3 separate regions of the Homo sapiens genome follow, and regions 1 and 2 are each linked to region 3. The links come from fine-mapping of genetic effects on gene expression. A gene starts in region 3. Each other region holds a variant in brackets. All regions are shown on one strand. Distances are from middle to middle.

The links. PIP is the estimated chance that this variant, and not a neighbour inherited with it, causes the effect.
Region 1: its variant is fine-mapped to the expression of LYPD8 in whole blood (TOPMed, PIP above 0.99).
Region 2: its variant is fine-mapped to the expression of LYPD8 in nucleus accumbens (GTEx, PIP above 0.99).

Annotation. Positions count from the first base shown.
Region 1 is chr1:248,801,335-248,809,514 of GRCh38, forward strand. It overlaps LOC124904577 (a long non-coding RNA gene), which reads right to left and starts at 6,184. Exons shown (of 2, transcript XR_007067008.1): 1 at 5,715-6,184. RefSeq lists enhancers at 1,311-2,510, 3,919-4,128. The variant A/G (reference allele first, on the strand shown) is at 3,947.
Region 2 is chr1:248,439,280-248,447,459 of GRCh38, forward strand. It overlaps OR2T2 (olfactory receptor family 2 subfamily T member 2), which reads left to right and starts at 6,358. Exons shown (of 4, transcript NM_001004136.2): 1 at 6,358-6,390; 2 at 7,310-7,532. It also overlaps the pseudogene OR2T7. The variant A/G (reference allele first, on the strand shown) is at 3,825.
Region 3 is chr1:248,751,567-248,759,746 of GRCh38, forward strand. LYPD8 (LY6/PLAUR domain containing 8) reads right to left here and starts at 4,193. Exons shown (of 7, transcript NM_001085474.2): 1 at 4,139-4,193; 2 at 3,673-3,820.

The DNA of each region.
Region 1 (8,180 bases), 50 kb after region 3:
AGATTCTCTAGTTACCACTGTTCTACTTTCTGCTTTTGTAAGTTTGACTATTCTAGATACCTTATGTAAGTGTAATCATACAGTATTTGTTCTTTTGCGACTGGCTTGTTTCACTTAGCAAAATGTCCTCAAGGATAGTCTATGTTGTAGCATATGTCAGAATTTCCTTCCTTTTTAACGTTAAATAATATTCAATTGTATATAACGTATTTTGTTTGTCCATTTATCTGTCAATTGACATTTGGGTTGCTTTTACCTCTTAACTATTGTGAATAATACTGCTTCAATATGGGTGTGCAAATATTTCAAGAGTCTGTTCTCACATTGCTATAAAGAAATACCTGAGACTGGGTCATTTATAAAGAAAAGAGTTTTAATTGGCTCGTAGTTCTGCAGGCTATACAGGAAGCATAGTGGTTTCTGCTTCTGCGGAGGCCTCAGGAAGCATCCAATCATGGCAGAAGGCAATGGGGGAGCAAGGCCAGGTGACTTGCTTTGGCCAGTGAAAGGTGAGTGAAGGGACAAGTCTTGGGACCCCTGTGCACTGTTTGCCACATCCCTTCCACCTGCCGGAAAGATGAGGTTCTCAAACTCCAGGGTACACTAGAATCACTCTAGGGGTTTGTTGAAAGCTGCTGGGGTCCACTCCCAGCATTTCTAATGCAGTATTGCTGTGGGCAGAGGAGTGGAGGTAGGGGGCTGAGAATTTGCATGTCTAACAAGTTTCTGGTGATGTTTATATTGTTGATCTAGAGAACACATTTTAGGAACTAGAGTCATAGAAGGATCCTCCCTGGGCCAGGGTCTCTGAGTGATACCTTCCTATTGAACCATGTTTAAGATGAAGGTTGGGTGGGGAATAAACATTTTTCTGTTCCCATTTCACTGTGGGATTTTGATGTTTATAGGTGAAAGAACATATCCCACACAGAAGCATAAATCTCTCACAACCAGCAGGACCTCGAGAAAGAAACACCATTTTGATTAGAGGGGCTTTAGTTTTCCCTGGGCTCCAGGTACACAAATCCACACGGAATTAATGGTGCAGAGCTGTAGAGAGGCTCTCAGCCATGTCCTAAGGCACATTCTCCTCAGTCCTCTCCCACCTGGTACATAGGATACCTACTTCCAGGGGGAAATCCAAGATTTCCTGGGAAGACAACTCCTTTCCCCTGTGCCTTCCACGGGTCCTGCCTATAGCTTGAGTTCACTCACAGAATCTGGTTTCCTATTGTTGGATATCAAACACTGTTGGAGCCAACAGAGGGTGGGACCTGTCTGAAACAAGACTCATCAGTGATCTTCCTGATCAGAGCCATAAACCTCTGGCCGGCAGTCAGCTGAAGGATTCAGGCAGCACTGGGAACAGCCACTTCACCTAGGAACTTGGAGATAGGTCAAGATAAGGAGGGCTGTAAATCTAACTCGGGCTCAGCTAGAGTCCTGGCACGTATGAGTATCATTTGTGCTACCAGCCCGGTCACCTACGAGGCATTCCTCTTCTTGTCTCTGATGTCCCGGTCACCTACGAGGCTTTCCTCTTCTCATCTCTGATGTCCCGGTCACCTACGAGGCTTTCCTCTTCTCATCTCTGATGTCCCGGTCACCTACGATGCTTTCCTCTTCTTGTCTCTGATGTCCCGGTCACCTACGAGGCTCTCCTCTTCTCATCTCTGATGTCCCGGTCACCTACGAGGCCTTCCTCTTCTTGTCTCTGATGTCCCGGTCACCTACGAGGCTCTCCTCTTCTCATCTCTGATGTCCCGGTCACCTACGAGGCCTTCCTCTTCTTGTCTCTGATGTCCCGGTCACCTACGAGGCTCTCCTCTTCTCATCTCTGATGTCCCGGTCACCTACGAGGCTTTCCTCTTCTCATCTCTGATGTCCCGGTCACCTACGAGGCTTTCCTCTTCTCATCTCTGATGTCCCGGTCACCTACGAGGCTTTCCTCTTCTTATCTCTGATGTCCCGGTCACCTACGATGCTTTCCTCTTCTTGTCTCTGATGTCCCAGTCACCTACGAGGCTTTCCTCTTCTCATCTCTGATGTCCCGGTCACCTACGAGGCCTTCCTCTTCTTATCTCTGATGTCCCGGTCACCTACGAGGCTTTCCTCTTCTTGTCTCTGATGTCCCGGTCACCTACGAGGCTTTCCTCTTCTCATCTCTGATGTCCCAGTCACCTACGAGGCCTTCCTCTTCTCGTCTCTGATGTCCCGGTCACCTACGAGGCTTTCCTCTTCTCATCTCTGATGTCCTGGTCACCTACGAGGCTTTCCTCTTCTCGTCTCTGATGTCCTGGTCACCTACGAGGCCTTCCTCTTCTCGTCTCTGATGTCCCGGTCACCTACGAGGCTTTCCTCTTCTTGTCTCTGATGTCCTGGTCACCTACGAGGCCTTCCTCTTCTTGTCTCTGATGTCCCGGTCACCTACAAGGCCTTCCTCTTCTTATCTCTGATGTCCCAGTCACCTACGAGGTTTTCCTCTTCTCATCTCTGATGTCCCAGTCACCTATGAGGCTTTCCTCTTCTCGTCTCTGATGTCCCTCCCTCCAGCGTGTATTTTCACGTCTCTCCTCGTCTCTGCTGCTTCACTTTTGTCACTTTCTCCAAGTCTTTTGGGTTTGTCTAGCTGCAGATGTTTTCTCTCATCCTCATCATTTATGCTTCCAGATCAGTTTTCCTGTCATTCTTATTCAGCTTTTATCTCTGTCACATTCTCTCTGAAAGTGTCGTTAAATATATATACATATGTATGTATATACATTTTTTTTTTTGAGACGGAGTCTCACTCTGTCACCCAGGCTGGAGTGCAGTGGCGCGATCTCAGCTCACTGCAAGCTCCGCCTCCCAGGTTCACGCCATTCTCCTCCCTCAGCCTCCTGAGTAGCTGGGGCTACAGGTGGACGCCACCAAGCCCGGCTAATTTCTTGTATTTTAGTGGAGAAGGGGTTTCGCCATGTTGCCCAGGCTGGTTGCCAACTCCTGAGCTCAGGTAATCCGCCCGCCTCAGCCTCCCAAAGTGCTGGGATTACAGGCGTGAGCCACCGTGCCCGGCCCTAAATATATTTTTAACCAACCCAGAAAAAATTAAAAAGTATATCCCAGGTGGCAGGTGAACTAAATACCTGGTTCACTTTATTTAACCTCGGGTTTGTTTTTGTTAGTGTTATGAAGACGTAGCTCCCCTCCTCCTAAGGCCTCATGCCCTTTTCTGTTAACAGTCCCTTCCAATGGGGCAGCCATGGTCACTATTGCCAGATGCAACTGTTTGAGGGAATGGAGAGGATTGTAATCTGAGGCTTCTGAAATTGTAAAGTGAAAGAGGAGATCTGGTAAAAGGGGCGAAGATCAGCTGAAGGAAGGTCAGATGTGAGTACAGCAGCAACGGTTACATTCCCACCCTGGGCTGCAGAGGCAGGTGGGCTGCAGAGGCAGGTGGGCTCCTGGCCTCTCTCTCCAAGTGGAGTGGGAGGCTGAAACCATAGCAACACTGAGGTTAGCACACAAGGCAGGTGACATTAAGCAACATCCTCTCCTTCTTCCCTAAACCACAGCAGCCCCTGCGAACCTGTACAGCTCCATGAGCCTCCTCCAGCCTTCACTGCTGCCCCAGGCCCCCAGGCCCTTAAGAATTCCTGCTGGAAAAAAGCAGGCCGTGGCACAACTGAGATTTCCTTGTGTCAGTGTGAAGATGATCCAGCTCTTCTGCATGTTATTGCAGAAATCATAGAGACGAAACAGGATGGGGTGGCCTGGAAGGAGCATGGAAGATGAAGCCGCAGCTGAGGAAGAAGGCAGCTCTGCTGCTCCACTCTACCCTAGACCAAGAAGGTTCCTCTTTTCTAAATGGGGAAGAAACTCATTTTGACACTCCCTTCCTCCTATGTTTGAATAAATCAAGAAGCGTATCTGCACTGTGCAGTGAAAGCCACCTGCCTGCCTGGAG[A/G]AAGAGAAACTACTGCCCAGCACTCTGAGCTCTTCGACCTCTGGACGATGATCATCTCACACCCAAGCAGAAATATCCAGCAGCCCTCTGCTCCCTCCGGGCTGGGTCCTAACCAACTCTGGACTTGCTCAGGTTTCTCATGCTCCAACCCCTAACCCTGTCTGCAAACACATGCACCATTTCACATCATCCATCAGAACTCTTCGCATGGCCCAGCCTCCACTGCCAGCTGTATAATTTTAGTGCTTTAGATAACCTTAGAGGTTATCTACTGAGTCTGTCCACACTTCCGGCAGATTGGAACACTGAGGCCCAGAGGAGCTGAGTGAATTGTCCCTGTGCACATAACCCCTTGTGGCAGGGGCAGGCCAAGGGCAACCCTCTCTGAATAGTGTGGTCAGTGTTTTTAACACCGAAGCTCTCAAAAGAACTAATGTTTACTGAGCACCTAGAATGAGGGTGACCATATGTCCTAGATCACCCAAGTCAGTCCCAGGCCACACCTGCCCCCTTTCACACTCAGCTGTCCCAATTTAGACTATGCATCACGTATGGTCCCTGTACATATGTCTATTGTGTTATGTGTTGAGTGAGATGGAGTCAAGGATGATACTGACCCCTTCTTCTGAGGACTTAGGACCAACAAGAGACATGTCTACAACAACCGGCCCATTCTTCAGTAAGTCAAAAGAGCCATGGGGAACTTGAGAGTGATAAGGATTAATTCAGACTGGGCTAGAGAGGTGCCTGTGGTTGAATCCCAGCTCATGTGGACTTTTGACCACATGATCTGGTCCTCAAACCACAGGCAGCAGTTTGACAGTTTGAGAAGGGAGGAAACTTGTGCCAAGGGTAGCACAAGCAGAAGTAAGTCAGTAGACAGCTGTTTGGTGAAAATTTCCACATTCCAGGTCCTGAGAACACCAAGATGGGTGAGACACAGGCCCTGGGAGCTCAAGACAGATTTGGGAAGAGTGAGGATTGGGAGCCAGGCACCACTTCTCCAGTCTGAGACCAAGGGGCTGGTTCAGAGCTTCGGAGAGCAATGCCCAGCTGTAACCTCCCAGATTTTTCCTTGACTGCAGCCCTCATTAGTTATTTATTTACTTATTTTTAGAAATAGGTTGTCCCTCTGTCACCCATTCTGAAATAGTGGTGTGATCATAGCTCACTGCAGCCTCAAACTCCTGGGCTCAGGAGATCCTCCCACTAGCCTCAGGAGTAGCTAGGACTACAGGTGCATGCCATCACGCATTGCTAATTTTTTTACTTTTTGTAGAGTCGGGTTCTCACTATGATGCTGAGGCTGGCCTCAAACTTGGTCCTCAAGTGAGCCTCCCACCTTGGCCTTCCAAAGCATTGGGATTACAGCTGTGAGCCATTGCTCCTGGCCTGGTTATGTATTTTTCACTGCCCTGCACCACCTGTGCACACCTGCATTCCTTACCTGGAAGACCCACCCATGGCATTACAGTTTATAGTGTTCCTAACAAGGCCTACCACAGTGTTTGTACACTGAAAGATCCTGGTGAACATTTCTTAGTAAACTACACATATCCATTTGCCAGCCAGTGTATGGTCTCCTGGTTCCCTTATCCCAGGGCATGAGCAATGTGTTGCAGCCTGGGGCTCAGGAATGGTGAGCAGGCGTGGGTGGAGAAATTTATAAAGAGGCTGTGGAAAGGGAGAGGGAAAAGACACTAGGGAGGCCAAGGAAGGAGGTGAGCTCTGAGGAGAACAGGGTACATCTACATATCGAACATCTTACCTCCTGAGACCAGCTGCGCTGCAGACTTGAGCCAGCTCTCACACGCAATAGGTGATTCCGAGGACACACGGGAATGCAAGAGGCCCATGACAAGTACAAATAGGGTTCCATTCTGATGTATACACACCCCCACCCTTCTATGTGCAGTTTTTCAGGCCCTTCTGCAAAGTGCCCATGAGGCTGACCACGCAGGCTTGGAGGGTCAACACGCAGTGCGCGCAGGGAAATGCAGAGCCCAGGCTCTGCGCACTTTCTGGTAGCTGCTGCCCCCTGCTGACACAGCAAGACCTTGACAGCCCAAGAAGGTCATCTCCGCTCTTCCTGCCAGGCAGAGTAGGAGCATCTACAGATGGGTTGATTCCACACCCCACAAATACGTACAATTACAATATGTCAATTTTAAAAGATGTCTAAAGGCTGGAAGCATAACCAGGCATGGTGGCTCATGCCTGTAATCCCAGCAATTTGGGAGGCCGAGGTAGGGGGATCGTTTGAGCCCAGGAGTTTAAGACCACCCTGGGCAACACAGGGAAACCCCGCCTCCAAAATAATCCAAAAATTAGCTGGGCATGGTGGGACACACCTGTAGTCCCAGCTACTTGGTAGGCTGAGGTGGGAGGATCTCTTGAGCCGAGAAGGTCGAGGTTGCAGTGAGCCAAGATCACATCACTGCACTCCAGCCTGGGCTAGAACGAGTGTCACAAAAACAAACAAAAAAAAAGGCAAAGAGCAGTGGTTCAAGCCTGTAATCCCAGCACTTTAGGTCAAGGAGGGAGGACTGCTTAAGTCCAAGAGTTCAAAACCATTTTGGGCAACACTGCAATACATCTCTACAGAGAAAAAAAAAATTAAGTTAAAAATTAGCGGGGTATGGTGGTGTGCATCTGTGGTCGTAGCTACTAGGGAAGCTGAGACAGAAAGATTGCTCGAGCCCAGGAGTCCCACGCCGCAGTGAGTTATGATTGCACCACTGCACTCCAGTCTGAGCAACAGCGCAAAACCCTGTCTCATAATAAAATAAATATTAAAAATTAAATTTTTAAAAAGGCAGTGGGGTTGTCATGCTTGTCAAAAATCATATCCAGATGAGGAGGGAAACACAACCCTTTCATAGAGTCCACTTGCCTAGCGCAAGATGGGATGAAGCCTCCGTGAGTTAAGCACTCCGAGGCTGTGAAGAGGTGCTAACAGGAATCGCTGCACCTCAGATCCACTGATGTAGCAGCATGCCACACATGCCTCTATGCTCCCATTTTATAGGCGATAAAATTGAAGCGTCATGAAATTTGAGAATTCCCATAGAGATGTGATCCTGGGATTGTGCATCACCAGGTCCTGACCTCCAAACTGCTGTACTGATAAACCCACCTGATACAGCTGTGGGCTAAGAGAAGGGGCAAGAAGCAAAAGCACATTTCCTGAGCATCTGTTGGTGAGAGCCTGTGTCAGGTGTTGGGTAGACTGAGGCCCCAGCCCCACACTTGAGGAAGATGAAGATCAGAACAATTCATTACCAACAGGCCAATGTAACATGTAACATGACACAGTACAGGAATGGGGGATGGGGCCCTATGTCCCCCACACCTTGACCATCTCTTCCTCACCTTAAACAAAATTTCTCGACCCTCTTTGCTGGGAGAAGGAGCTAAGAAACAGTATTCCCACTTCTCATCTCTTCTTCCCAGCAAAACTTCCTCGGAGATGACTACCTCCACTTCCTCACCTCCTGTTCCTGTGAGCCCAGTGGTTCAAGCGTTTGGACTCTAGAGTCCAAGTGCCTAGTGGGAGCCGCCTCCGTTACCTTCAGCAAGGCTGAGTACCCCCCATTGTGCCTTATTTTCTTACCGTGGAAAGGAAATCATAGTGTTTATCTGTCCTATAACATTGTTGTAGAGATTAATTAGGGGCGTTCCTGGTACGTGAAATGCACTGGATGAGTACAAGTTACTACAACGAGGGTGGGAGGGAGGGAGCTCTTCGGCTTCTGTCTTCTTCTCCTTAGAAGTACCATTGGCTCTAACCTTCCTGGTCTCTCTTCCCGCCTGCCGCATCTTCTAGGTGATTTTGCAAGGAGAAACGCACGTGCATGGCATAGCCCTTCTTTTCTAGGGCTCTTCTGTACCAGGAGCCTCACAGGTCCTGCCTGCCAGTGACTGGGTAGGGAAGTCCAGCACTGTGTGTCATCTCAGAAAGCCCTTCATTAGGACTATAATACTGTATTATAGACTGAAAATTTGCTGAGAGTAGATTTTAGGCGGTTTCACAACAAAAAAGGGGGGAGGTAACTGCAAAATGATAGGCCAATTTGATACCTATTTCATTATGTGCATCAAAATACCATGTTGTTCACCTCCTATACATACAATTTAAAAAATTTAAAAAGCCCACTCACCCAAAAACATATGCTATGCATTTTCATAGCAGCTTTTCTAGTAATAAAATATTATGACACCCATCTGCCAAGTC
Region 2 (8,180 bases), 310 kb before region 3:
GAACTGAAAAATGCATAAGGATATAATGTGGGTTTCATCAGTAAAAATCTGAATTTTCATCGTTTTCCATCCATCCACTGTGGCATGGTTGTGGTGGAATGTACTGAGGGGCCCTGGTGTGAAGTTCCTGTCTACCAGCCAGTGGGCTGCAGCTTCCATCATTTTTATTGTCCTTTGTTCACATACCAAGTAAGTCAAAACTGCTGAGGTCTTAAAACCATTCTGAAAGTGCACCTGTGGTCACACAACACACGTTCATGTGCCTCAATTCTAGGCTCGAAGACAGATGATGTCTTACATTCTTTCAGGGTCTTTCAGAATATCAAACTTTGGCTTACCCAATGTGCCTCTCGGGAAATATTTACGGAATGAATTGATGTCTACTTTGTCCTGTTGGAAAACAGCATAGAACAAATTATACTGTCACTGTTTAAAGAACAATGTTCCTCCTTGGGGAAGTTTCCTTAAGCCTCATTTTCAACTGTAGAATGGTCTAGTATCTTACACAGTTGTTTGGAAATGTAAAATTTACGAATCAGTTATTAATGTTCTTACTGCTATTTGCAGGTGAATGCATATACAAGTAAAGCCATTTTTCTAATTTGGTACACACCTAAATTTTTTGGCTCAATTCTAATTTGTGGTGTTTAATTCTGGAGGACTTGTTTGGATGAAGGTAATTGGAGCTGTCATATTCCCAGGAATAACTCTAACCAGTGCTGCCTAGTAGAAATCCTAGGGGAGCCACAGAGAATTCTAAATTTTCTAGTAACCACATTAAAAATGTAAAGAATAGGTGAAACTAATTTTAATCTATATTATCCAAATATATCTAAAAGTTACCATAATATAAAGTTTTAAGAAGACGTGTTGCATATATTTTTAACAGGTGTTTGAATTGTTAACTTTGTGCTGATGGCACATCTTGATTTGGAGCAGTCGTGTTTCAGGGGCTCCACAGCTTCATAAGCCTCATGGCTACCACCCTGGATAGTGCAGATCTATATGATGCAGGGAGAAGCTATCCAAATAACTCATAAGTGGTCCTAAATTGTGGTAAAATATTTAACTGATATGGATACATATGCAGAATCTAACTTCAAGTTTGAGAGATCCCTTCTTTTGGGATACACTAGCTCTAATACTTAAACTAGTTTATTTTTTCATAAGTTAAATGGGATTCTAACATTTTAACGAGTTGTATGTTAATAATCGGTAGTTTGCTGCTGCAAGAAGGAAAGCAAACACCACTTGACCCTCAACGTTTTCTCCCATGATTTTTCCTCCTATGAATTCTTGGATGACTTCTCAGAACTCAGCTCTTTTTATTCAACACAGGCTCATTCTGCAATACTCCACCTGATACATGTAAGTTGAGCACTCAAATTTTACAATGTACAAGTGTGTCAAGAATGGTGTAAATTAGGTCAAATAATGCAGTTATTCTTCCATAGGCAAATATATACTCGTGGTGATCTTCAAACTGGATTCTAAGTGTGAGAACTAGAGTCTAGTATAAGGAGAGCAGTGTAGGATGTGGACAATCCTCCTTTCCTCCCCACCACCCTATCCTATTGAATCAGGCTGGTTCCATTCTTATGTCTTATATGCATCCTCACCAATGTAAGGTGGTACTCGAAAGACAGAAATAAATGGTCATGAACAAAAAGATTGTTTGATCATGAACTCTAAATAGTAATCACCAAATCAAGAAAATCCTTAAATGAACAATGATGGTATAATGAGATGTAGCACAATCCTGCTCAGGCAGTTCTCTCAGGGAAATTATGAGCTTCAAGAAATAAGATTTTGACCTTGGTTTCATGACTACATCATAATGTTTTATGTAAATCAGATACCTTTCCAACTTTATCATATCTCTTTCGTGTACCCTACAGAGCTATGGAGCAGAGCAATTATTCCGTGTATGCCGACTTTATCCTTCTGGGTTTGTTCAGCAACGCCCGTTTCCCCTGGCTTCTTTGCCCTCATTCTCCTGGTCTTTGTGACCTCCATAGCCAGCAACGTGGTCAAGATCATTCTCATCCACATAGACTCCCGCCTCCACACCCCCATGTACTTCCTGCTCAGCCAGCTCTCCCTCAGGGACATCCTGTATATTTCCACCATTGTGCCCAAAATGCTGGTCGACCAGGTGATGAGCCAGAGAGCCATTTCCTTTGCTGGATGCACTGCCCAACACTTCCTCTACTTGACCTTAGCAGGGGCTGAGTTCTTCCTCCTAGGACTCATGTCCTGTGATCGCTACGTAGCCATCTGCAACCCTCTGCACTATCCTGACCTCATGAGCCGCAAGATCTGCTGGTTGATTGTGGCGGCAGCCTGGCTGGGAGGGTCTATCGATGGTTTCTTGCTCACCCCCGTCACCATGCAGTTCCCCTTCTGTGCCTCTCGGGAGATCAACCACTTCTTCTGCGAGGTGCCTGCCCTTCTGAAGCTCTCCTGCACGGACACATCAGCCTACGAGACAGCCATGTATGTCTGCTGTATTATGATGCTCCTCATCCCTTTCTCTGTGATCTCGGGCTCTTACACAAGAATTCTCATTACTGTTTATAGGATGAGCGAGGCAGAGGGGAGGCGAAAGGCTGTGGCCACCTGCTCCTCACACATGGTGGTTGTCAGCCTCTTCTATGGGGCTGCCATGTACACATACGTGCTGCCTCATTCTTACCACACCCCTGAGCAGGACAAAGCTGTATCTGCCTTCTACACCATCCTCACTCCCATGCTCAATCCACTCATTTACAGCCTTAGGAACAAGGATGTCACGGGGGCCCTACAGAAGGTTGTTGGGAGGTGTGTGTCCTCAGGAAAGGTAACCACTTTCTAAACAAATTGCATATGCTGCTAGAGACTTGAAATGAAGGATACAAGACTTTATCATTGCCCTTGAGTTTAAATATTCTCTGCCTGGAAACAAGTGACCCACATGCCAGCAACTGTGGGGCATTTATGGGATTTGGAAAGCTGCCTGGGATTTTTAAGGATTTCATTTTTTTGAAAGGTATGAAGGCTCTGAACAATGAACAGTTTGGGCTGGGGTAGGCATAAAGCTGAGGTTTAGTAGTCACCCATGAGCTCTTAACAAGGTGTGTATTCCACTAAAAATCATGGACTAGCCTGTTTCTGGCTCTGCTCAGTCATGGCAAAAACGGTCATCTTCAACTACTTCCCTGACTTCTCTCGACTTTTCCCCTTTAGACAGTCTGTCCATTGACCATTATAAAGAATCAACTCAAATATTATATTTCAAATATAGCAGTCACCATCTTATCCTCAGGCTGTGTTCTAAGTCTTTTGGGGGAAGCCTGAAACCATAGTATAGAACTATAGAACCTGACTGCTGTCAGTCACAACATATTTGCTCATCTTCTACCATAAATGTAATACGTTTTCTTTCTTACCTAAGCACTTATCACACACTGTGGCTGTAGGTTTTGCAGTTTGAGGTGTGACAGCAAAATTACCACAAATGTGTTTTTCCTCCTACACAATTTCAAAGAAGATTCATTCTTACTGTAGATCTTGGCAATCTCAGCATATTTTTCTTGCCAGAACCTCCAGTTAAGAACTTATTAGAATGTGTCTCTGATAATGGTTTGGCTGTTTCCCCACCCAAATATCATCTTGAATTGTAGCTCCTATAATCCCCATGTGTAGTGGGAGGGGCCTGGTGGGAGTTAATTGAATCCTGGGGGTGGGTTTTTCCCATGCTGTTCTCATGATGAATAAGTCTCACGAGATCTGATGGTTTTACAAAGGGTGGTTCCCCTGCACATGAGTCTTGCCTGCTGCCATGT[A/G]AGACATGCCTTTGCTTCTCCTTCACCTTCCACCATTGGCTGTGAGGCCTCCCCAGCCATGTGGAACTGAGCCCACTTAACCTCTTCATAAATTACCCAGTTTGGGGTGTTTTATAGCAGTGTGAAAATGGATTAATAGTCTGTTTTTCAGAGACATGAGCAGAGGGCCAATATCTTTAGAAATATAGAACACTTAAAAATTAAGTCTTATAGGAGCTAGCAAGGTTTTGCCAAATACAGATTCACCCAAAAATGTCAAGTGGCACTTTGGAATGGAGTGAGAGTGGGCAGGCAGAATTATCTGAAATTAAAACAATCTAAACTCCAAACTGTGGGAGTCAGTCTTGGCTTGTAGCAACCAAGTCTATACCTACTGATGATATAAAAAGGATTACTTCCTGAAGAGAGTTAAAGGGAAGGAAAAGAGAAAAAGTGAATAAGAAACATGGAAGATTGAGACACCACAAAATACCTCTTGTAAAAAGTCTAAATTATATAAGATAACTAAGTTCAACACTAGACAAAGTATTGTGACACATGAACATGAGTTAGAAACTAATACCAATCAATACACTGTTCACAGGTCTGTTTTTTCCTTAAGTTGGGCTTGTATTAACAATTTTCCAAACTGATACAGCAGCACTTCTCAAACGCTTTCATGACATAACTATAAAAATTAGTGATATGGCACCTTGAGGAAAACTGATGTGGCTGTTGACAGCAAAATCAACTCCCCTGTGGCTGTAGCCAAATCGGGCACTGAAGACCAATCCAGGGTTGAGAGGATCAATATTGGTTGTAACCCATTTGTGGCTCTGGAGAAAGACACATCACACCAGAGGGAAGAGTGTATCCAATCAATCCAATAGTTAGTTGGAGAACTTTATTTATGGATGACATATAAAATATTCAGGAATTATTGAATAACATTCTAAAGGCTGAAAAAGGGTATGGGTTTTCTGCTTATCTGCAACAGAGGGTATAAGGTATGTGTCCAATGGATTTGTGATGACTAGCAATCATAAGTAATGTTGCCCATTAGCTGACTTAATGCATGAAAAGCATTCAATGATGTTGTTTGGGAAGCAGAACTTTAGTAATAAGACCACCTTCTTTTCCCCATTAGAGAAATAAATGTTAGGAAGTTCAATTTTCCTAATGTTTAAATATCTTAATGTGCTCTGGTGAAAACTTTAGAAAATGCATAACTTGTATTACCCTCACTTTTTTCTCTACCAATTGCGTTATTTCCATCATTTTTCTTATGTCTCCTTTATTCCTACTGAGGTCAATATTCTTCTGTAGTACACGTAAGACAAATAATTCTGAAAAACACTTAACCTAAGTGACAAATGCCACTTTTGTGAAAATAGAAGATAGGAGAAAGTAGAAGGAAAATCTCTTGGGACCCAAACTCACTAAGCCAAAGGGAAAAGTCAAGCTTGGGAACTCTGTCATGCAAAACTATATTCCATATCTGTTCCCGACTGTATGGCTACAGATTCCATACTGTTCCGGAATGGACAGCTACACAGGTAGAAGGCTACATACCTCCCCAAGGGACCTCCCTCACAATCTGCTAGCAAGGAAATTCCTTGCTGGCCCAAAGATCTTTACCCGAAAACCATTCTCTTGAATTGTCATGCTGACAATGTAAATGAATGGCTTATCTTGACAGGCAGTGGACAAAGACAGGCCTGGGAGTCATCCCTCCACTCCCCTGAAACAAATGCATATTTGACTGCTTCCTCTACTGTGTACCTTATCTTATATACAATCCAGATTCACTGAGCAGGAGATGAACGCCCAGTTGAGTGTTCCTCTAAACCCTCTCCTGTCACATCTAAAGTGCGAATTCAGTCAACACTGATTAAAGCCTGCAAAGAAGGAAACTACTTCATTTATTCACACTTCCTTTTTCTTTTTTTTCCTCTAATGCCCACTGTTTCCCTTTTAAATATTGAAGTCTCCCAACCGTCTTTGGAAGAAGCACAAATCTCAGATGCTCCTGTCATATTGTGTTCCTTTTTCCCAGGTGCATCCTCAACCTTGGCACCAGAAACATCTACATTGATTGAGACTTGGCTCCAATGCTTTTTGGTTCACACTTATTTATAACTTTAAAGATTTCTCCCCAAACAAGAGGCCAGTGACTTTTGAGAAAGAGCTTTTTTAGTTTGTCATAGCCTCTATTTCTAAAGAAATTTAAAATCTAATTTTCAATTTAGAGCGAGGCTCTTATCCCCACATCACTGCCTTTAAAATCTCTCTGGAGAGATGCCAAGATTCAGTAAGACATTTTCATGATGAAATACCAAGAAACGATTCCAGTCCTTCACTTGGGAAAACAATGCACCCTCTGCAAGAAAGGACAGGCTGCTTCTAAAGTTCATGGTAAACCCAGTCAACTTGGATTAATTGCTAACCCAGGAATTCTTCCTGGGGGATGTGGGACTCTATTAGTGAAAAGACTTTTTGACCTAGCCTCACCCCTACACAATGTATTTAATAAGAAGTCTGACATTCCACTACTGCTTTAGAAAGACTTGGACCCAGCTTCTCTGAGGTAGGATCCTTAGATCTTCATGAAAAACAGAACATCACCCAGATACTGGGATGTTTTCTTCAGGTATTACTCTGTAACTATTAGAAGGCCACGTTACTACTGTGAGCTTATCTGCTAATAACTGAGGCAGTGGTCTTCTCAAGATTAAGCATAAATAACATATATTCACTATCTGGCAAGCAGACAACTGGAAAAGGGCATTTAGCATGAAACGTGGGAAGCTAAGGGAAATGTAATAGTTTAGAAGAACATGAATAGATTTACTGAAGGAAAATGGCATGTAAGAGCCGACAGTTAGAAGAATGTGCTTGGTATTCACAATGAGAAAGTTTCAGAATTAATTGGTAGCAGGGGTGCATACTATTGGATAAGCATAGATTGCCCTCTGAATATTTTGTTAAAATTTTAATTTACATTTTAAGTTAAATGATTAATTGCTCCGTTCATATGCATTTAGGTGTGGCTGAAGACTTCATGCTTGGAGGGAAATCATGATTTTTTTTTTTCATTTTAACCTCCTTCCTCTTTTATTGAACCCATAAGGCATCCACGTGTGCCTTAAGATCTTTTTTTTTAATAAAACTATTAGAGGTCTCCTAGAAGCCATCTTAGCATGGCATATAAAAGCCTGTTGAGCTGAGTAACTGGAGCCCAGGGGGAGATGTGGACATGTTGGAAGCTCAGGCTGTAGGGGTATAATAATGAGTGCATTGTGTTTATAGTTGCAGGTGTCTGCCCCTTGCTTCAGCTCACCTCACCTCACCACTGCTGTTCCTGTGTAATCCTCCATGCCCTTACTCTCCATTTCCTCTTCCACAGTATTAGTAGGGTGGACTAGATGGGCTCGCCTCGCCTCACCTCGCCTCTGCTGCTCCTGTGTAATCCTCCATTCCCTTACTCTCCATTTCCTCTTCCACAGCGTTAGCAGGGTGGACTGGATGGGCCATATGCCAGATCCTTTGATTTCTATTTGCCACCACACGAACTGACACTGCTGCCCAGAAGCATTCCCCTGCACATCCACATCACAGCCCTCCTGCTGGCAGCTTGGAATTTAGACCTTTTACTCTCAATGCTCCAGGAAACCAGATGTACTTCTTTCTTTCTTGTCCATTGGTGATATCCTTGACAATGTAGTTTAGGTAAGTTGGCATGTAGCATTAAAACCTGTATTCTTCAAACTGAACTAACTTCTGGCATAGTAAGTGTTCAGTAAATGTTCACCTACATGCCATTATAGTGCTGATTTTTTTTTTTTTTTTAAAGCCAAGAAAACTTCTATCTTATGCCTAATTTTCCACACTGAAAATTTCCAAATTGTCAGTTGGGATGGGAGGGAAAGTAGACTACTTTTCCATGAATGAAAACAGTTACCATTTAAATAAATAGGCAGATAAAGGGGGGTGGTAACTAAGGCAGTATGTAATTAGAACTGGAGATAAGGTAAGGGAAAAGAGAAATTCACATCATTGGATACTACGTTGCTGTGGAGAGAAGGGGATAAAATCTGATTAATGTAGGAAGCAAGGTCCAAATGCGTTCATTCATAAAAGCAGACGGAGTACAGGAGTAGCTTGTGTAGGTAGAAGAAGAAAAGGAGTTCCTGGCCAAAGCCCACTGTGGCTATGAACACTTATGAGTAGCAATTAATATTAATCTTGCTTTCAAGACTAAAACTGCCAGGTGGATCTTTCATAAGTACCTTATTTCAGCATGTAACTTTCTGACTGAAACAACTCCCATTTGCACCTTATTTCTCGACGCTGAGTTCTGGTCTCCCTGCCTTCACT
Region 3 (8,180 bases):
CCGCAATAGGCAGACAGCTATTGAGCACTTACTCCATTCCAAACACTTTACAGGTATTAATTTATGTAATTCATCTACTGTAGCAGGCAGGTATTATTATTAGCATCCTAAGAAAAATCAAGCCTTAGCAGGATTGGGTAATGCACTCAAAGTCAAGGTCTTACTTCTGGGAGGTATCAGAACTGGAGTTTCGTCTGTGTCCCCAACCGCCAGCCCACACTCCCTTCCACTATTCCCACAGTCCTCAGCCTGGACACACTCAACCTGCAGCACTAAATCAGAGTCCCCCATGCACTTCCAAATAGCGTGTCACCAATGTCTCTGCACCTTGCATTCCCTGCCTGCAGATTCTCTGAGTTAGGCCTTTGAGGATTGCTAAGGTTTGGTTATATTCATTAGAATTCGAAATTAGAACTTCCAGAATTCCAACTTGCTTGTGTATCAAAGCAGGAGAGAGCAGGTGTGTGGCTCTGGCCTGAGCCCTTCTTAATCATTATCTCATTTACCCTATACACGGTCGCTGTGAGGCACACATAGTTATTTATGATTCTTCGAGGGTAGATAAAATGAAACATTCTGTTTCTCAGTAGCACTGGCTACATTCCCAATGCTCAGGAGCCACATGTGGCTGTTGGCTGCTGTATTGGCCAACGCAGGCACAGAACACTTCCATCATTGCGGAGAGTCCCAGTGGACAGTACTGTACGGCAGAGGCTATTAGCCCCACTCTACAGGTGAGAAACCTGCAGCACAGAGGGACGACGAAGTAACCCAAGCTCGCTCGGCTCCTAAGGCCAAAGCCAGTGCTCTATTCCAGGTCCTTCCAGCTCCAAAGCCTAGTTGCACCACAATAGCTGCTACTTACTGAAACACAATCGCCTTCATCTGGAAGCCCCTACTCCCACCTCACCACACACATGCACATCACCCCCCACACACACCAAACANCCCACACAACACACACACACCACACCACACAAACACAAACACACCACATCATGAACACACACATCACACACACACCACACACCCCACACACCCCACACACATCACACACACACACCACACACCCCACACAACACACAACACACACCACACACACCACACCACACACACACCACACCCCACAACACACACACACCACACTCCCCACTGAACACACACACATCACACACACCACACACCCCACACACACCACACACCCCACACAACACACACCACACACACACCACACCCCACAACACACACACATCACATCACACACACCACACCCCACACACACACACCACACCACACACACACCACACACCCCACACAACACATACACACATCACACACACCCCACACACCAACACACCACATCACACACACACCACATCACACACACACCAAACACCCCACACAACACACACACAACACAACACACACACAAACACACCACATCATACACACACCACACACCCCACACACCACACACACATCACACACACACCCCACACACCCCACACACCCCACACCACACTACACACACACCACACACCACACACAACACACACAACACAACACACACACCCCACACACAAACACCCCACACACCACACACACCACATCACACACACACACCACATCACACCCCACACAACACACACACCACACCACACACACACACCACACACCCCACACAACACACACCGCATCACACACACACCACACAACACACACACACCACACACACCACACACCCCACACAACACACAACACATCACACACACCACACACACCACACAACACACACATCACATACACACCACACACCACACACAACACATACACATCACACACACACCACACACCACACACAACACACACAACACAACACACACAACACACACCCCACACAACACACCACATCACACACACATCACACAACACACAACACAACACACACATCACACACCCCACACAACACACCACATCACACAAAACACATCACACACACAACACACACCCCACACAACACACACAACACAACACACACACCACACACCCCACACAACACACACAACACACCACACATATACATCACACACCACACACCCCACGCAACACACACACCACATCACACACACACCACACACCCCACACACACACGCATCACACCACACACACCACAGCCCCCACACAACACATACACACCACATCACACACACACCACACATCACATGTCATACACAGCACATACACCACACACACCACATAACATCACATGTCACACACACATCACATGACACATACACCACACACCCCATGCATCACACACACACCACACATCACATGTCATACATACTACATACACACAACACACACAACACATAACATCACATGTCACACACATCACATGACACACACCACACACTCCACACATCACATACACACTGCACATACACTACATCACACACCACACACCACACATCACATGTCACAAACACCACACAGCACACCCCACACCACACACATACACCACATACACAAATACCACACCACACACCACACATACACCACACCACACACACTTCACACACACCACACATCACATGTCACACACATTAGGTACACACCGAACACACACAACACACATTAAATGCCACATACAACACACCACACACATTAAACACACACCCCACACATAAGTCACACACATCACACACACAACACACCATGCGCTAAATACATCACACATACTACACACATGCAAATCACATCACAGACACCACATACGCACCACACCACATACCACACACACGACACATCACATGCCACACATCACCTGTCACACACATCAAACACACACACAATACACCACACACCTCACACACGTCAAACAAACCCCACACACACCATATCACACACACATCACACACACCACACATGCACCATATGCCTCCACACACAGAGACACATACACATCACACACCCTCACACACACACACCCCACATGCCATTTATACCACATGCCACAAACATTACATGCACACAAACCATATACACAATACACAAACCACACACAAACACCACACACCCTACCCTGATACCCTGGTTGACTTATTAGAGATTGGTAAAAAGGAAGGGAAACCAGTCGGTCTGGGAGAAGAGGCCCATACATGATGCCAATGACCCCACCATTTAGAGATCCAAGGAGGAAAATAAAGCACATCTGGTCTGGAGCTTGTAGCAGACGTGCGCCAGCCCCTCACCCCTCCAGGCCCGGTGCACCCCTACATGCCCGGGTGCACCCCTCCAGGCCTGGAACCCCAGCTGCTTGCTTTTCTCCTCAGTGGGAAAAGAGTTTCAGGGCCATGGCCTTCTGGGAAAGGGCCTCTCAGGTCTTACAGTGTGATGGAGGAGGGGAAAGGAGAGGATGAGATGAGATGAGAAGGAGACCCCAGCAGCCCATCAAGTGCACAGATCACCTCAGCCTATGGTGAAGACCTGAAACTAGCCTCATTTTCAGGGAGAATTGATGGAGGCCCAGAGAGGTCAGGACTTGACCCAGGGNCACCTAGCAGAGAAACAGAGCCTGGGAGTGACCCCATAGCAGGACCCAGGGCCGTGCTCAACACCTCTGTGGGTAAGAGGGACCAGTGAAGCTGGGGCTCAAGGCAGGGCCCCCACCTGGGACATGAGAAGAAGTGGCATCTTAGGCCGTTTCACTAGGTACTTCCCACTGGCAAAGTTTTATTGCGGAATCTTTTCGACAGCCTGGCAGGGTCCTGCTATAATTGCTGTCATCTTCCACAGAGAAAGCTGGAGCCTAGAGAGGCTGTGAGGACACAAAACCACACAGAATGAAGAATGTCACACACAGAATGATGCACAGAACACGCACACACTACACACAAACCACACACACAGTAGCAGATGGCAAAACAACAAGAAAACTACATCCCCAGCCCACATCCTCCCTGAACTCCAGACTTCCCTCTCCTGAGCATACGACTGCCTAGGGCAATGCCAAAGGAGCAAGAGCCGCAAGAATGTCCTGGACTTGGCCGGGGAAGGACCTGAGCTGGTCCTGAATGCCCTTCCTGCGGTTTCAGCTTCTCCCAGGGCTCAGGCCCCGGCCTCGCAGTCCTCTCACCTTCTGGATCTGGCCTGGTGACTGTCCTACAGAAGGTGGTTCCCAGTAGAGGCTTAGGGCTGGTATGGGAGAGGCCTTATATAGCAGGTGGCTGTAAAATCAAAAAGCACAGCTGTCTTCTGGGGTGGGACCTCTGGGTCAGACAGGCTAAGGCTTCTGGCTCTCAGACTGTGCCCTGCCCAATAGAGCTACAGGCTGCCCAACCCTTTGGCATCTGTGCAGCTCGTGCCCTCTCTGAGACCTCTAGGAATTGGGAACAACTTTGGTCAAGGCCTGCCTTTGGCAAAATGTAAACAGGAGTAAGGTATCTTCCAGCATTGTCTGTGGCCTTCTAAGTCAATTCCATGACCTGCTAATGACAAGCACCTAACAACCTGCTAACAGTCACCATGATTAGCCCATTTATAGATGAGAAAACCAAAGCACAGAAAGAGAGCCATAAGAGATATGCTCATGGGCACACAGCCGGGGCACAGTCAGAACTCAGAGCTCCGAATCAGACTATGTGGGGTCTGTGCAACTCAGGAAAGGGCCTCAGTTTCCCACAGGCAAGTGTCTTAACCTTGTTAGATTTGAGGGTCCTCCAACCAAGATGAGTGTAAACTCACTGTGCAGCCTCATAGTGTGGTAGAGGGACCATGACGTGAAGCCCCTGCCTGCAGTGTGCTCTGCACACTGGGTGAGAGCCCACAGCAGCCATCGAGAGAGTCTTTCTGGCCAAGTGATCTGAGCAGCTACTGGTAACAGCCCAGGTCAGGTCAACTGAGGCCTCTCTGTATTAGTCAGGTTCTCTGTCCTCTAGAGAAGGTGAGTTTATATATGTATGAAGGGGAGTTCATTAAGGAGTATTGACTCACATGATCACAGGGTGAAGTCCCACAATAGGCTGTCTGTGACCTGAAGACCAAGGAAGCCAGTCTGAGTCCCAAAACCTCAAAAGTGCAGCCTTCAGTCTGTGGCTGATGGCCTGAGAGCCCCTGGCAAACCACTGGTGTAGGCCCAAGAGTCCCAAAGCCGAAGAACTTGGAGTCCGATGTTTGAGGGAAGGAAGCATCCAGCATGGGAGAAAGATGGAGACTGGGAGACTCAGCCAGTCTGGTCCTTCCTCGTTCTGCTGCCTGCTTTTATCCTAGCTGTGTTGGCAGTTGATTAGATGATGTCCACCCAGATGTAGGCTGGGAGGCTAGGCCAGTCTAGCCTTTTGACATTTTTCTGCCTGCTTTATATTCTAGCAGAGCTGGCAGCTGATCAGATGGTGCCCACCCAGACTGAGGGTGGCTCTGCCTCTGCCAGTCCACGGACTCGAGTGTTAATCTCCTTTGGCAACACCCTCACAGACACATCCAGGAACAATACTTTGCAATACTTTTCAATCCAATCATGTTGACACTCAATATTAACCCTCACACTCTCCCAGTCTCCTCACACTGTGCCATGGGTGCTCCTGGTTTTGAGTGTGGACTTGAGTTATCTTCCCTCCTCATCTTTCCACTGTGCTGACACTTTATACACACACGGTGGGGAGTGGGAGGAGCCCACTCAGCCGAGGATGCAGAGGTTGAGGGGCACACATCATACCAGTATCCCCCAGCCTGCATTTAAACCTTGCAGTTCCCTGCTCTTGAAAATACCCCTTGGGGATGGCTACGCTACCTGTGTCTCAGCTCTCTCTTCCTTCCCCAAACTCATGCATTCATTCAACAAACATTTTTTGAGCACCCTCCCTGTCTTAGGCCTACTGTAGGAAACCGGGAGGTATTTGTGAGCAAAAAGACAAAGACCTTTGCCCTCCTGGAGTGTAGTCTAGAGAGGACTACAGACAACATAAATTAAAGTGGTAAATAAGCAAATCACAGGGAAAGTCAGAATGTGGTGACTGCTCTGGCAAAAAGACAAAGAGTAGGATAAGTCATCAACCATGCTAGGGGGTGAGCAGGTGCAGGCTTCCACTTTCAATGAGGAGGTTGTAGTAGGTCTCATGGAGAAGACAAAATCTGAGTTATTTTTATAAGCAGAGACTCTGGCCATCTCTTATTCTCTCCTCTCCTCACCATCTGCCTTCAGGCTGCTTATCACAGCATTTTCCTAAAAAAAAAAAAAAGCAGCTTCCTCCCTAACAGAACCATATTGTTTCCCAGCACACATTAGTCAGTCACCTGGCAGGGCACAACAAGAGAAGTGGCACAGTAATATCCAATGGGGTGTGTGTGGGCTTGCGGGTTTCAGGAATGTGGCCTCCCTGAGCCACCGATGGAGGATCCAAAGAGCTCATGAACACTGCCTCTGAGATAACAGCTCTGGTGTCAGGCTGAGTACTGGCATGAGAAAATCGGGCTGATCAATGTTAATTCCTCTCAGAAGGCACCAGATACTCAGGCAAATGGACCCAAAGCGACCACAAAGATCTGAGTCTGAATCCAGACTTTGTCCCTCACATCACATAAGTTACTTATTAACCGCACTTGTTGGGCCAGAGCTCTTTGTCTTTAAAATGGAATCATCAGGCCCTGAAGAAATGCCTCCTGATGATTTATTTACTCCTGGAATCATCACCCCATTCCTCTGTGTTTTTCCAAGGCCATCTATCTATCAATAATGTCCTGAGGACGTCTAACCATGTGGGAATTATTATTAATAGCACGTATGATTTTAACTGAGCCATTTATCAGTAAGGACACTGAAGACAATGGAAGCCCCCTGAACTAGGCTGCGCAGTCTATACGGCTGCTCACAGCAGTCCTGGGTTCATCCTTTTGAAGCCCCGGCAGTGCGCCAAGGGTACCCCCAGCTGCCTTGACAGATAAGGAAACAGGCCCAGGGAGGCCTTCCCTATAGGCCTTCAGACGCCTGGGCCAGCAATCTTTCCATTTCAACATGGCTCAGGTGGGACGCAGCCTCCACCCGCAGGATTGGAGACATCGACTTGACTCCACTCCTCCCTCTCCCAGAGGTTCACCTCTCTGTCATTAATGTGGGGTCCAAGGACCTGAATCAGTCACAGGGAATTATGAAAAAGCACCTCTCTAAAGCCGACTCCTCCTGACTAGCAAAGAAGTCCAGAGACCCAGGAGAAGCTAAGTCGCAACAAGCAGCCCAACTTTTAAACTAAGAAGCCCTGGGCACACCGTAGGCACCCTAGTTCCATCATCTTCTTAGAAGGGGACAAGGTTGGCTGTCCCTACAGCCTGCTGAGCTGAGGCAAACCTGGAGCTCAGCTGAGTCCCAGTGAGTCATCCGGTGGTAAATCTGGAACCACTTTAGGAAACGGCCTTTTCCCAAAGCTTCCCTTGATGACCAGCAAAGCTTGGAGGTGAGTTTCCAGGGGAGCCTACCCCATTTTGGAATAAGCATGTGGAGGTGTGTAGGGTCAGGTCAGGGAAGCTGGGGCAGGAATTATATCCAACAGGAGTCTAAGCCAAAGACTCAGCAAAAGGATCAAGAGCATCCACCCCTGACCCGCCTTCTCTCTGTGTTTGCTTCTGGGAGCCTTTCATTGACTAGCTCATTCCTCCCGCTTGGAGATGTGAGAATAGGCTAAAAATAATGAATTATTGCCCCCAACATTCCTGCCCCCCAGTCACCTTGCAGAGGAAATGAGCATATCCTGGAAGATAAACTTCCCCAATAGTCCATGGCCTTATGTAAGATGATGATCCCCCCGAGTCTTGGGTTTCCCATCTTTCAAGTGGCAAAAACAGCACTACGGCCTGAGTAGCTATTCTGAGGGTCAAAGGAGGTCGCACAAGCCGACAATGATGATGAAACTATCACTTCATAAAGGGCTCTAAAAACAATGGCTACTACTGCTATCATTGTTCTCTGAGCTCATATCGGCAACTGCACAGCCCAGAGGGACATTCGCATCTGCACAGGGCAATGGTCTGAGGTGAGGTCCAGCCTCAGAACACACTTCTACCACAATTAGATACTACTTCATGCCCACTAACACAAATAAAATCAAAAAGAAAGAAAGAAAAAGAGACAGAGAAAGAAAGAAAGAAAGAAAGAGAAGGAAGCAAGGAAAATTGCGAGCATTAGGAAG